Linked DNA regions of Homo sapiens. Changing the gene in region 2 together with the main gene of any one other region gives a genetic interaction. Each region holds a gene or a part of one and is shown on either strand. Other genes may lie near its edges. The genes, in order: ATG10 and CCT8.

The links.
Region 1: of CCT8 (region 2) and ATG10, changing one enhances a phenotype caused by changing the other (phenotypic enhancement), as found in Homo sapiens cells (one large-scale study listed by BioGRID).

What each region holds. Positions count from the first base shown.
Region 1 is NC_000005.10:82,055,230-82,059,058, forward strand, and holds part of ATG10 (ubiquitin-like-conjugating enzyme ATG10), read left to right. Parts: intron 1-2; exon of another isoform or gene 3-105; intron 106-3,265; coding exon 3,266-3,373; intron 3,374-3,829. UniProt on the Homo sapiens protein: E2-like enzyme involved in autophagy. Acts as an E2-like enzyme that catalyzes the conjugation of ATG12 to ATG5. ATG12 conjugation to ATG5 is required for autophagy. Likely serves as an ATG5-recognition molecule. Not involved in ATG12 conjugation to ATG3.
Region 2 is NC_000021.9:29,059,823-29,063,651, forward strand, and holds part of CCT8 (T-complex protein 1 subunit theta), read right to left. Parts: intron 3,709-3,829; coding exon 3,530-3,708; intron 2,735-3,529; coding exon 2,668-2,734; intron 2,594-2,667; coding exon 2,506-2,593; intron 2,422-2,505; coding exon 2,306-2,421; intron 1,746-2,305; coding exon 1,674-1,745; intron 1,596-1,673; coding exon 1,431-1,595; intron 839-1,430; coding exon 719-838; intron 1-718. UniProt on the Homo sapiens protein: Component of the chaperonin-containing T-complex (TRiC), a molecular chaperone complex that assists the folding of actin, tubulin and other proteins upon ATP hydrolysis.

The DNA.
Region 1 (3,829 bases), on a different chromosome or scaffold from region 2:
GAAGATTGATACTGAAAAAAAATCACCACTACCAAATATAGAGCAAAAAACCCAGCGTACTTCCGTATCGATAATAAAAAAATGGTATTAGAAATTACCTAAAATGTAAGTAAATTCCTCAAATTATAAGTATTATTGAAAGTGACATATCTCTTTATCTTAACTAATTGGGAAAGAGACCAGATAATTTATTTAGATTTTATAACATAGGTGCACACGAATTTTTGACTCACCTCTTTTAATGTCAAAGGAGATGTATTTTGCATTGTTATTAGAATTTTACTAAATTTTATGTTCCCTTAAGAGGAGGTTATGTGACCAGGGCTCAGGTATTGAAAAATACAAAATAGAGCAGTTACCCTCATTTAATGAGCTATATTTAGTACACACAGTGCAGCTCCGTGTTCTCTGAATATCCTGAGAGTTTTGGTTTTTATCTCTATGGCTAGATCATTTTGAAATTGCAGACTTTGGGTAATTTTTCTCTCAAACACATGCTATTATAGTTTTACCGTATAGTCATGCTGCATAATGACATTTCGGTCAAGAACAGACCACATGTACAGTGTTCCCATGAGATTATAATACTGTATTTTTGCTGTACATTTTCTTTGTTTAGATATGCTTAGATACACAAATACTTACAAATTTTACACAAATTTTGTTACAATTGCCTGCAATTAATACAGTAACATGCTGTACAGGTTTGCAGCCTAGGAGCAAGCAACTATGTCTATAGCCTACGTATGTAGGAGGCCATACCATTTGGGTTTGTGTAAGCACAGTCTATGATGTTTGTACAATGACAGAATAGCCCAATGACGTGTTTCTCAGAAGGTATTCCTGCCGTTAAGTGATGCATGACTGTATATGGTAAATCTTTTATATAATCAACTATTGATTATCTATCTCAAGATTGACAATACAATAGAAATCTTCTATTTTTAAACTAATAAACACAAATTTATGTTACTTAATAGCAAAATTATTTTGGTTGCAAGTGACAGAAAACCCAACCCATTGGGTGAAGCAAAGAAGGGACTTTTTGGGGCCATGTAATTGAAAAATCTGAGATAGAACTAGTTTCAGATATGGTTGGTGTAAATAATGTAGTCAGAATGTGGTTTCTCTGTATCTCATGGTCTTGCTTTCCTCTGAGTTGCAGAGCCAACTTCGTTTAATTACATGATGGCTGCCAGGTTTTTTTTTTTTTTTTTTTTGTGGTCTGTCTGGCTCAAACCTAGTGGAGAAGAGAACAGCCACCTTTCCCAACCCCCCAAAACCAAATCCTGAATTTCATCCCATTGGCTGTGATGTAGATCATTTGTCCTCCAGAGTCTCTGGGGCCGGCAGTACTGATGGGCAGGATCAGAGATCTGTGTCTATCCCTGGAGCTGTAATCATTTGTCCTCCAGAGTCTCTGGGGCCGGCAGTACTGATGGGCAGGATCAGAGATCTGTGTCTATCCCTGGAGCTGTAATTAGTGTAACAGTAGCCAATGCTCCTCTAAGGAACCATTCCCTTCTCAATCAGGAGAATTGAGGAGCAATTGTTCCTTAGAGGAGCAATGACTACTGCTCCAAAAGAAGGAAGAATGGATGTTTGATGTGAAACAGTGGCAATGACAACAGTCATTACATATATCTTTCTCAGTTTAAGCCAATGTTAAATTTACATTTTTCTAAATACGAAGGTTTCAATGGTAGAAGACCATTACAGGATCTGCTTTGTGGTCAGATAGTGTAGAGCTGGAATTTAAAACAGTAATTCCATCTACAAAATGGATATCCTTAATGAAATAATTAAAAATGACAGTATTGGATATCTGATGGCCTACTTTCCAGGCAGGAATGATATTAAAAATATTTAGCAACCTGTGACAGAGGCATCAACCAATCAGAATGAGTTGGATCTAACCAATCAACAACTAACCAGTGCAGCCCCCTGAGTGAGAGCTGGCTGTTTGTCAGCACAACTTACTGGGAGGCATTCTTAAGGTGCTGTCAAGTGTCTTAAAAAATAGAGTTACTGTATTAGTTTCCTAGGAATGTTATAACAAGGAACCACAAACTGGGTGACTTAAAGTAACAGAAATTTATTCTCTCACAGTTCTGGAGGTTAGAAGTCTGAAATCAAGATGTTGGCAGGGTCCTGCTCCCACCAGAGGCTTTAGGGAAGGACCATTCCTTACTGCTTCTAGCTTCCAGTGGCTGATGGCAATCTTTAGCTCCTAGATGCACCGCTCCAGTCTTCATCTTCACATGGCTTTCTTCCCTGTTTGTGTCACTGCATCCAAATTTCCCTCTTCTTATAGGAAGATTAACCCCTTAGTCCTTATTATTTTAATTCTATTAAAATGTAAATGTTGGTATGACAATGTGGTGGGGAATTAATATTTATTGGCATGTATGTTTGTTCTTGGGGAGGTATTATATTCTTACACATGACTTTATTGAATTCAAAAAAGTGTTACCTTAAAAAAATGGAACTGGCCACAATTAGATGAACATCATTCATTAGTGTATTTAAGAGCAAGTACAAGAAACAGGAGACAAATACTGGTAAAGGGCTCAGAAACCATATTTTGTAAGGAGTATTTGCAAATGGTGGTCATTTCTTCAGCGCTTGGAAGAACAGCTGTGTGGAAAAGGGATTAGACTTCAGAGGGCAGAACTAAGTAAGTTAAAGGATGTGAAATACAGGACAAAACTTTCTTAATGTACAATGCACTAAAATGGAAATGACCGCTGTGTAAGGGAGTAACAAGGGCCAGTTCCTGGAGGTACTCAGGCAGTTGCTGAGATGCATAAGTACCTTTCTGGGACATTTTCATAGAGATCTTGCCTTGAGAAAGAAATTGAAATGGAAGCTTTCTTGCAGCTTCAAGATCTATTTCAAGTCCTAAAATTGTTCTCTATGTGTATGCCATGAAAATCAATATTAATTATGTGACAAGCTATTTCTATAAGCTTAAGTTTTGTTCTGTGATCTTGGTGCTATGGACTAGTCAGGAAAAAAGGGAAAGGTTTAATCTAGGAGGGTGGAAACATCATTAATAAATAAGAGAGGTAGGAGAATAAAACTTGCATTTATTGAGTACTTACTACGTACAGGGTGTTGGACTAGTCTCTTTATCCATATAGTCTCATTTAGTACATTTAGTTTTTCACTGATCAGTTTGGAACTTATGGGAAGTGGTTCTTAAAATGATGAATTCTTAAAATAATTGGCATTTTCTTATATATTTTTTGGTGATGAAACACAGGACTGTTCTGATGGCTACATGTGCAAAATACACTTTCAAATTAAGAATGGGTCTGTGATGTCACATCTAGGAGCATCTACCCATGGACAGACATGTCTTCCCATGGAGGTGAGTAGTTTAATGCATCATGTTCTTTTCAGTCTCCGTAAAGTATACATTTAAAAATGTATACTTTAATGACTCCATCGCATTCCATCCTATGGAAGCACCACAATTATATGGCACTCATATTGAAATAAAATACTTTAATTCTGTTAAGTAAATATTTTAAAAACTTCAAACTTCTTCCCACTGGAGAGAGATCCAATTGCCATTGGATCCTGGGCCTGTTGTAGGGGGAGAAGGAGGTATTTTCCTTTGTAATACTGAAAGCAAGAATTGTGGTAAAGTTATATAAGATCCACTCTGACTCCAGATTGTAGTGAGCCGTCATACTTTTGGTTTCTCTTGGACCTGAATACCACAGATGCCTTCTGTTGTCTATTGATTTTTTTTTCCAAGTAAAATTCCCTGAATATAGCCCTAGCCCCAGGCTGCTTAATACTTGATTGGAGACCTCTTTGC
Region 2 (3,829 bases):
CTGAAATGTCTTTCCACTGATTTCTACTTAGGACTTACTCCACCTTTAATATGACATATGACTTTTACCTAATGGATGTATACTGTCCCTCTAGCAAATTAAAATTTTCTATTAAGTACTTATAAATAGTCATTGCTTATTAATTACTTCTAGAATTTTGTGGGGAAATGTATTTAATTAAGTTTGCCAGAAAATACCTTTTGGAAAAATAATTATGATTTCAGGTTTACTTCTATATATAGAACAGTCTACCACAATTCTTCAAAAAAAAAAAAAAAAGGGTAGAAATATGATTTTAAACACCTTTAACATCTTTTAGTATCTCAAGCTGTAATTTGTCATAGCAGAAAAAATTTTCAATGCCCAGTCCTCTTATCTGCAGACAGCTAGAGACTCCATTTTCCTTCAAGCTGGTGGTCTGCAATGTCTGCTTGAGAGCTTTATGGTCCTTCCAAATTCCATGTTAGTATTATATATTAAATTTACTCTCTAAATTATTTGTACAAATGGGTTCTAAGGCTAAAAGGTTTGAAAGTTATATATTCAATACAATTTATAATAGAAGAAAAAAATTGGAGGGGGGCACATAGTATCTCTAATAGGTGAGGACTAAGAATCCTTTGAATTAGAACTATGCTATGTTCTAGTTCTGGGAAAATATACTATTAAACAGTATGCAAATGAGTATTTTTAAAGATCAAAATTTCACTTTGCTCACCTGATCCACTCTAAGTACAGTGACTGCAGCATTAGTAGCGAGTTTGATAGCCCAATATTTTCCCAGGTAAGTATCTAGAATACCAGCTTCCAGCATGTCCTTTACAGCAGGGACTTCAGCCTGTCAAACACAATTTTCATCCTTTCATTTAAAATCCTTTTATGTGAAAATGTTTACACCCACAAAAAGCCTCACATAGCTCCTTAAATAGTACTGGAAAGTAACCAAGCACAGTCCTACCTTATAGAGTCATCCTTTAGTATGTGAGGATTGGTTCTAGCACCTCCAAGGATGCCAAAATCTGTGGATGCTCAAATCCCTTACATAAAATGGCATGGTGTTTGGATATAATCTATGCACATCCTCTCATATACTTTAAATCGTCTCCAGATTAATTATATAACATAGTGTAAATAGTTGTTATAGTGTATTTTTAAATGTCTTTAGTTTTTCCAAATATTTTCAATCTGTGGTTGGTTGAATCAATGGATACAGAACTGGGCTGACTACACACTACAGAACAAAAGACTATCAATAAAACAGAAGGAAAATGAAACGTTCCTCCATCAGACAACCTATGTAAAAACTAAGAAAATAATCTGCTCCCAAATCAGAACACTGTTTCTCATTGATATTTCTTTTAAACTCATACTATTTTTAGGTTGTGCATTCCCCAAATAAAGCAATTTAAGTTCAGTGTTTTTTCAAATACCTCAATATCTAATCCAACGTTTTTATTTCCTTCTTGATGTACTGCATAAAGTTTAGAGATTACTTCATTGGCCTTAACTCCAGAGTTTTCTGCCAGTGCGCGGGGAATAGCTTCAAATGCCTCAGCAAACTTCTTAATAGCATACTGTTCAAGTCCAGGACATGTCTAAAACAAAAATGCGTTAATTACTGTCTTTTATTCAAGCAATGGAAAGAAAGTCAATTTATACAGAAAAAGCTGTACCTCTCCATATGATGTGATCTGTTTGGCTAATTCAATTTCTGTTGCTCCACCTCCGGGTACAAGACGTTTATCCTGTATGTAGCGCCCCCACCAAAAAAAAAATGAACACAAAACAAATTCACTAAAAATCAGTTTGCAGTTTTCTAATCTTTTCACATTCCAGTACCCCACCAAACAGGAGTTTTTATCAGTCATTGTTACTCAAATACATATTACAAATTTGGTAAAAATGAGTGGGTGGGGCAAATTTTCTTAGTGCACAGTGTCTGGTGTATGAAAAGGACCAAAGTGAAGAATGGGAATAGTACCGTATCATTTTTGCATATCCACAGATATAGCACTAAGAACTGCTTTAGCAACTAACAGTACATTACAATGGAAAACAACGATAAACAATTTTTTTTAAAGCTCTGTTTTGCTGTTAACTCCTCTGTACAATCTTTTTTGGAAACTATCATATTCACTAACAATGGACACTTAAGTCTTAGGTAAAAACAAAAACAGGTGCTTCATTTCATATAAACCACTCATTCTGAAGTTCTCATGATGTGCAAGAGTCTGCAAACTGTACTTTTAAGACCATACAAATTACTCAGACCTTACAAACTACTAAGAATATTGCTGATACTGACCCTTGTAAGAACTTTGAAAGTATTAACACCATCGTCTACTGCCCTTTCTATGTCATCCATCAGATTGTCTGTAGAGCCTCGAAGTACTATGGTAGAAATGGCGCCATCTTCCTTTTCTATCAAAAAATTAAATATATTTGGTGATTAAATACAAGAAGCTAAAGCCCTACACTTAAACATGTTTTACCATTCCTACATACCATGCTTAAAAACCACCACCTGAGTATCTCCAACTTCTGAGAGGTAAACACTGTCACAGTGTCCCATTTCTTCAAGGACAGGAGGTGTCTGTAAGAAAGTGACTGTTGTAATAAAAATTCCATCTTGTTCAACTATCTTTTAGTGTTTTCCAAAATACATACCAATCTAGGAAGAGCTGTAGCACCAACAGTTTTACAAAGTCTTCGGAGATCCCATTTTGAGTTTAGCCTTTAAAAAACACAAAGACCTTAATAAAAGTTTTAATCAATTTCAGATAGCATATAAAGTTCAAATTAAAGAGGAACCTGTATACCAGCCCCCATGTCACATTCCTTTGACAATGGATTTTAACTCAGAACATGTCTGGATTGCAATGAACACTAAGGCCAGGAAGCTGATTCCTGACTCTCTGAGTGAGTCCAGCTGGCCAATAGTACCACATCTTAAGCCTGTGTTGTATGGCATTGTTCTAGAATTGGGAGAATGGAAGTCACTTTAGGATGTCAGTGGTTTATAGTTCTAAAACACCAGAGAAACCCTTACAAAACTCAACAGCATATAGAAAATTTTTGCTTTACTTTGTGCAATCAATGTTCTGTGAACAAGAGTGATTTATTTTGCACATTTTATTAGGTACTAGGGATGGTGGTAGGTAGAAATGGGTTAAGTTGTCTAGTGTGCACCATAAATGTGTTCATGGATTAAAAGGGATCTTCCTGACTCCATACTCTGATAGGCAATGCACCAAGCTTGTGTCTAGTCTCTTGGACAAGTTGTTCCTTTTGCCTGGAATGCTTTTCCCTCTTCAATTATCTGGTAATTGGTTCTTCAAGCTCTCAGCTTAAATTTATGTTTTCTCAGAGGTGTTTCCTGACCCCTCCCCAAACTAAATCCTTCTGCTATTTGACCTAGTACCTTTACTTTCCCTTTATTAACAGTCTTCATGGTCTATTTCGTTTAGTGTTTTCACCACCAAAAAACCATTTATGATATAGGTAAAAAAAAAAATCGGCTTTTTCTTACCTCACTAACATGATATTATATTTATTTGCATAATGAAGAGCCATGTCTGCCACTTTGCCACCTGTTACTACGACATTTGCACCAGTATCAGCAATAGCTTTGACTTGTGCATCCATGAGGTTTTCTTCTCCCTTACTAAAATTCATCAATTCTTCAGCAGTCTTTATCAACACTGTTCCCTGGCAAAACAAGTAAACATTCCCTTTAAAATCATTTCACTACGTTGGTGTTCAAAGTCATTAGATAATAGTTGACTGAAGAAATAAAGGTTTGGCAAAAAAATATGAAGATATATGTGCA